2 separate regions of the Homo sapiens genome follow, and region 1 is linked to region 2. Evidence: fine-mapped expression QTL. Tissue or cell type: blood mononuclear cells. Region 2 holds a variant in brackets; the other region holds the start of a gene. All regions are shown on one strand. Distances are from middle to middle. Region 1 holds the start of KRT73-AS1 (KRT73 antisense RNA 1). Region 2 has its middle 16 kb from the start of KRT2.

Region 1 (2,723 bases), 26 kb before region 2:
CTTTCCCCAGGGGACAGATGATGCTTGAGCATCAGATAAGCCAGCAGGTTCTTGCATTTAGCTTTACAATACCTTCTGAGTATTTTTCAAAAGAATTTCCTGATTGTTAAAATTAGGGAGTTTCTGCTGGTCCCACTATAAGAAAGAGACTGCCAAACCCTGTGGGGCCAGCATTAAACTGGCTTGCACAGTGGTCCACACACCAGTCTCCACTCCCATTGAGGAGGCACCACTCTGTGCTCAGTTTCCTTCATGCAGGAGAGCCGGTGTGGGGGTGACAGAAGAGGGGAGGGGCTGAGAGTTTCACCACAGCAGGCAGGAGATTGCTATGAAAGAGGCTAGTGTGCAGTATCAGAATGTCCTGGGCACTAGCTCCACCTGGAAGAAGTAGCTCTGAATGGGGAGGCCGCAGGTCTCAGCAAGGAAGGTGAGTATGTGACCAAGTGGTCAACAGGCAGAGCCAAGCTCTTCCTCAGGGGGCTGGGCGGTGGACACCCACCCACTTTGTGTTTGTTGATGGACTAAAAGTATTCCCTCAGAGTCATGAAATACTCACAAATGCTCACGGAGTTGGTATATTCTCCGGACATCCTGCAAGAGAGAAAAGCACAGGAGAGTCTGAATCACGTGGACTCCCATAGTGGCCCTCACTGCCTAAACACAGGCTGGGGATCCCCAGCCAGACCAGCTCAGCCTTCACGCACCCCACACTTGCCAGATGGCACTGGCTGCCCTTGCATGTCTCTAAGCCCTCCCTCTCGCTCCTCAATCTACTCTTCCCACTGCAGAGATGTGGAACCTGCAACTTTGGAACCCCCAACAACATTACCACCCCCAAGGTCCCTCCTGCAGGGTTTCTCTTGAACCCATTTCTTTACTACTGTGAGCAGCTGTCTGAATAAATACATATGTGGAAAGATCAGGATCAGGAGTTGCTACTAATGAACGAACTGTATGATTTTGGGGCAAGTGACTTCTCTCCAGGTCTCAGTTATAAAATGGTGCTTGGTTAGAACAGGGTTTTTCAAATGTTCATGCTTCGTGTGCCACCCTTCTGACTGTTGCTAGGACCATGTTTGACTTGTACTGTTAGATATTTAGTATTTTTAATTGACTCTGCCTTTTACGACAAAAGTGCATTTCTTTTAAAAAGAAGTTTTTTATCACCAGGGTAAATAGAAACCAGTATTATTACCTAACCAAATAAGAAAAAAAGTAGCAGTAAAAATAAATATAATGAAAAGAAAACAATTTAAAACTTTTGGGCTAAATAATGCTATTATTTTCCCAGAGATGCTGCACCTGAGATCTACTGTCTCTTTATCAATAGGGGATATTTGTAAGTGTCTGAGAGGTGTTTTTGTGTTTTGTCTGTTTGTTTGTTTGTTTGTTTGTTTGTTTTTGAGATGGAGTCTCATTCTGTCACCCAAGCTGGAGGACAGTAGCAGGATCTCAGCTCACTGCAACCTCAGCCTCCTGGGTTCAAGCGATTCTCCTGACTCAGCCTCCCAAGTAGCTAAGATTACAGGCATGCACCACCACATCCAGCTAACTTTTGTATTTTTAGTAGAGACGAGGTTTCTCCAATGTTGGCCAGGCTGGTCTCAAACTCCTGACCTCAGGTGATCCACCCGCCTCAGCCTCCCAAAGTGCTGGGATTACAGGCACGAACCACTGCGCCTGGCCATCTGAGAGGTGTTAAAGACACAACAGCACCCAGCTAAGACTTTCTCCAAAGAGTCAAAAGAGAACTGTAAAGGAAATTGCTGTCACATTATCTGGCAGGATGCTGTTTGAAACTATGCTTGTGGGTGAAGTAAACACATCGCCAGCTCGCCGCCCCCTCCCCCCCGCCCCCAACCACACTCTGGGAAACTTTAAGGTGGAGACTTGCAGTTTCTTCCAGTCCCTCGGTCCCACCCACCTGCACTCCTCGCCCTCCAGCAGCTTGCGGTAGGTGGCGATCTCAATATCCAGGGACAGCTTCACGCTCAAAAGCTCTTGGTACTCGCGCAGCATCCGTGCCAGCTCCTCCTTGGCCTGCTGCAGGGCGCCCTCCAGCTCATCCAGCTTGGCCCTGGCATCCTTGAGGGCACAGTCCCCCCGCTGCTCGGCGTCAGCGATGGCCGTCTCCAGGTTGGCACACTGGGGTCAGGAGGTAGCATTTCTCCCTGAGTTCCTCCCTGGGCCTCGCTTCACCTCTCCCATGCTCTCAATGGTTGAGCCCTCCTCTGTCCTGCCCCATGTCCTGGAGCAGAGACCCAGCCACATCCAGGTGGAGTCCTGTCAACCTGAGACTGAGAGGCTTGCTACGCTGGGCCCCACAGCTTTATGAAAATAATCTGCAATTGTTCCAAACTTCAGATGGGAGCTAAGGGTGAGGGATGAGAGCAGGACCTCCATTTGAAGAAGGGGATTCTGAAATGGATGCTCAAGAGAAGGAGGGGGCAGGGGGTGCTAAGCAGTTCACCCCTCCCTTAGGAGTGAGTAAGGAAGGCTCCAGTCCCCTTCACCTGCTTCTTCACACTCTCAATCTCCGAGCGCAGTCTTTGGATGAGACGGGTCAGCTCTGAGATCTCATTTTTGGTGTGTTTCAGGTCATCCCCATGCCGGCCGGCTGCTAGCTGCAGCTCCTGGAACTAGAGGAAAAGGAACCAAAGCAAGAACACTGACTCAGGGCTTGGCTGGGATCAGCCTGGTACAGAGACTGTGCCTGCACTTGC
Region 2 (3,025 bases):
GCCTCCAGGGCAGACCAGAGAACCTACAGACCCATGCTCCCCAAAACCACTGTCAAGACCAAAGCCCTCCTTGCTAGGCTTCCCACCCCAAACTGTCCACCTCCATAGCTCCTTTGTCTGCCTCCATGGTCCCGGCCTCCAGCCATGATGATGGAGATGCTCTTTCTCCCCGCAGGGCTAACGAGACTCCAGCTGCTATAACCGCCTGGCTCAGCATAGCCTTGGCTTCGTGCCCCTCTGTGCTGTTCCACAAGAGTGGCAGCCTCTGCCAAGGCTGTGCTGCTCGTCTCTGGCACCCTCCCAGCAGCATGACCCAGCCACTACCAAAGCCTGTGCTCTGGCACCTCAAGCATACACCTGCCTGCTCACAGTGACTCCAAGGCAGTGAGTGACATAGAGAGGTGGGAAGAAGGTGTCTCCATGTTTCCCTGCCAGAATGCTGAGGTGTCACCTTATACCTCTCCTGGAGCTGGCAGTGGGCCAAAGACAAATTCATGGGTTTGGCTACCCTGACACTAAAAGTGACAAAAAAATAAATACAGCCTTCTACTTGGGAACAGTCAGTCTAGTAACTATTGCTTAGTTAGCAGGGTTTTCTTATTATGGTCTACCTGTCAACTATCTGCTGACCTAGGCAATATGAGGTGTGTATGATTATGCCCAAAAAGCTATCAGGTCGGGTATTTTCTGAGATTGTTGCTATTTCAGCACTTTTAGTTTCTACCAGAGTGATATTAAAACCAGAGATACATCTTCCTAAAGCTTTAGGACAGAGACACTGATGAATTAGAAACTGATATCTGTAAAGGAAAGTGATTTAGAGACACATACTAAATGGAATTTTCTACAGTTGGTGAGAGTTACTTCCACCTCCCTACCAAAAATATACACAGTATCCTGTATATATTTTCCCAAAACAAGTGTCCAAAAAAGGGATTAGGAGTTAACTGTGTCCACCAATGAAATATTACATAACTAATAAAAATTACTGGGCTTATGCAAACCAAAAAATTCTGTTTTAATGTTAAGTGGGAAAAGGAAAAATCAAAATTGAATAATCAATATGACCACTAAATCCTAGGCACAGAAAAGAAGGCCTAGGATAAGACTGGAGGTATAGGATGAGCAGAGAAATATTGTTTAACTGACTAAAGCTAAATACTTTAGAAAAGCATGTTCAAAAAGAAAATACATCAAAGTGTTAACAGTAGTTGTTTTGTGTAGTGGTGAATTTTTTAAATTTTCTATATTTCTATTTTTCCAAGATTAAAATAATAAGCAGGTATAATTTTTACAACAGAAGCAATCAAGCCCCATAAGGCTTCAAACTCCTCTATGGGGAGGTGAAGCAGGTCTTCTTTTAGAAACTGTGATATATATATATATATTGGAATACTACTCAGCCACAAAAAGGAATGAATTGACAACATTTGCAGGATGGGACTGGAGACTACTATTCTAAGTGAAGTAACTCAGGAATGGAAAACCAAACATTGTATGTTCTCACTCAGAAGTGGGAGCTAAGCTGTGAGGATGCAAAGGCATAAGAATGACACACAGAATTTGGGGACCCAGGGGGAAAGGGTGTGAAGGGGGTGAGGGATAAAGGACTACAAATCAGGTTCAGTGTATACTGCTTGGGTGATGGGTGCACCAATATCTCACAAATAACCACTAAAGAACTTATTCGTGTAAGCAAATACCACCTGTTCCTCAAAAACCTATGGAAATAAATTTTTTTTTTTTTTTAACATTCAAGCAGGCCAAGAACATTGGGTCCTTCTTTCGGTCACTCCATAACTATTTGGCCAGCTGCCTGAGAGAATATTCTGG[G/C]CTCAGGATTCTCTTTGTATATGTTTTATCCAGGTCAGAGAAGTGCAGACTTACTCTTGTCTTGGGCCCCTCCTTCTCTTCTTTCCCCTGAGTCCGCATACCTGTAAAGTCACCTGTGAGATGACACGCGTGCCTGGCAGGGCCCAACAGCCCCTCTCAGCTAGTCTCCTTCTCTGGATCCAGGTGAGAAGCAGAGGTGTCTTCCCCATGCTATGATCCTGTACCCTTCCTGCTTAGCCAGGCCCTACCCTGCGGTCCCACCCACTGTCTGAGTGCCCCTAACCCGGCCACTGGGGAGAGAGTCAGGCAAAGGAAGAACACGTGGTAGGATATGTGGTGGAAATGATGTGAAATGCAAGAGCCATAGCCGTGGTTTCCAATGCCAGCTCTACCACTTCCTAGTTTTGTGATTGTGGACTTTTCAGCCTTAGCTTTGCTATCTGTCAAATGTGGTGATAATGACACCTGTCCTTGCTACATAACCAAGGTGTTATACAAACTGTTCGGGGTTGGCGGGGGTGGGGGGGCAGTGGAAATAAATGTTAGTTTTTACCACTGAAATTTTACAAAGATAAATGTTTAAGTCCACATCTTTTCCCAGCAGCAGCAACAGCAACAGCAACAGCACGGGTATCATGTATTGCCCGATTATTGTGTTTCACAACTGTAAGTGCTTTACAAAGATAATCTCCTTTAATCTCCACAACAGTACTATGAGGCAGCCACTGTTATTATCTTCATTTTTTTAGTAGTGAAAACTGAGGTTTAAAAGATGAAGCACTTTGCCCAAATGACGCAACTAGTTAAGAATTAGAAACAGGATTTGAACCAAGGCCAACTGATTCAAGAGCTCAATACAGAAATATTGAGTTGGGCCCATAAATGCTGAGGAGACATGAATTGGGACCCCTGCTTGGAGGTAGTGCACTTTGAGCAGGTTTCAGGGGAAGAGAGGAAGCAGGGAGAGGGCAGTCTTATCAGGGATGAGGTGGGAGCCTCACTAGCCCCACTAAAGAGAGTTGAGAAAGAGGTCTTAGCAGGGGTCACAGAAAACCAGAAGGGGGAGAGTGAGACCAAGGTGACAGGACAGGCCAAGGCTAACGAGATTAACTATGACAAAAGTGACAGGAGGAGGGTGGGTGCCCAGGCCGAGACAGAATATAATTGTACAGTCTCCACTATTTCTTTTCTC

The links.
Region 1: KRT73-AS1 starts here. The variant in region 2 is fine-mapped to the expression of KRT73-AS1 in blood mononuclear cells (TOPMed, PIP above 0.99).

What each region holds. Positions count from the first base shown.
Region 1 is chr12:52,608,691-52,611,413 of GRCh38, forward strand. It overlaps KRT73-AS1 (KRT73 antisense RNA 1), which reads left to right and starts at 1,161. Exons shown (of 3, transcript NR_126005.1): 1 at 1,161-2,723. It overlaps KRT73 (keratin 73), which reads right to left. Exons shown (of 9, transcript NM_175068.3): 6 at 2,514-2,639; 7 at 1,925-2,145; 8 at 557-591.
Region 2 is chr12:52,634,227-52,637,251 of GRCh38, forward strand. It overlaps the pseudogene KRT128P. Among named protein-coding and RNA genes, the nearest start is that of KRT2, 16 kb to the right of the region's middle. The variant G/C (reference allele first, on the strand shown) is at 1,834.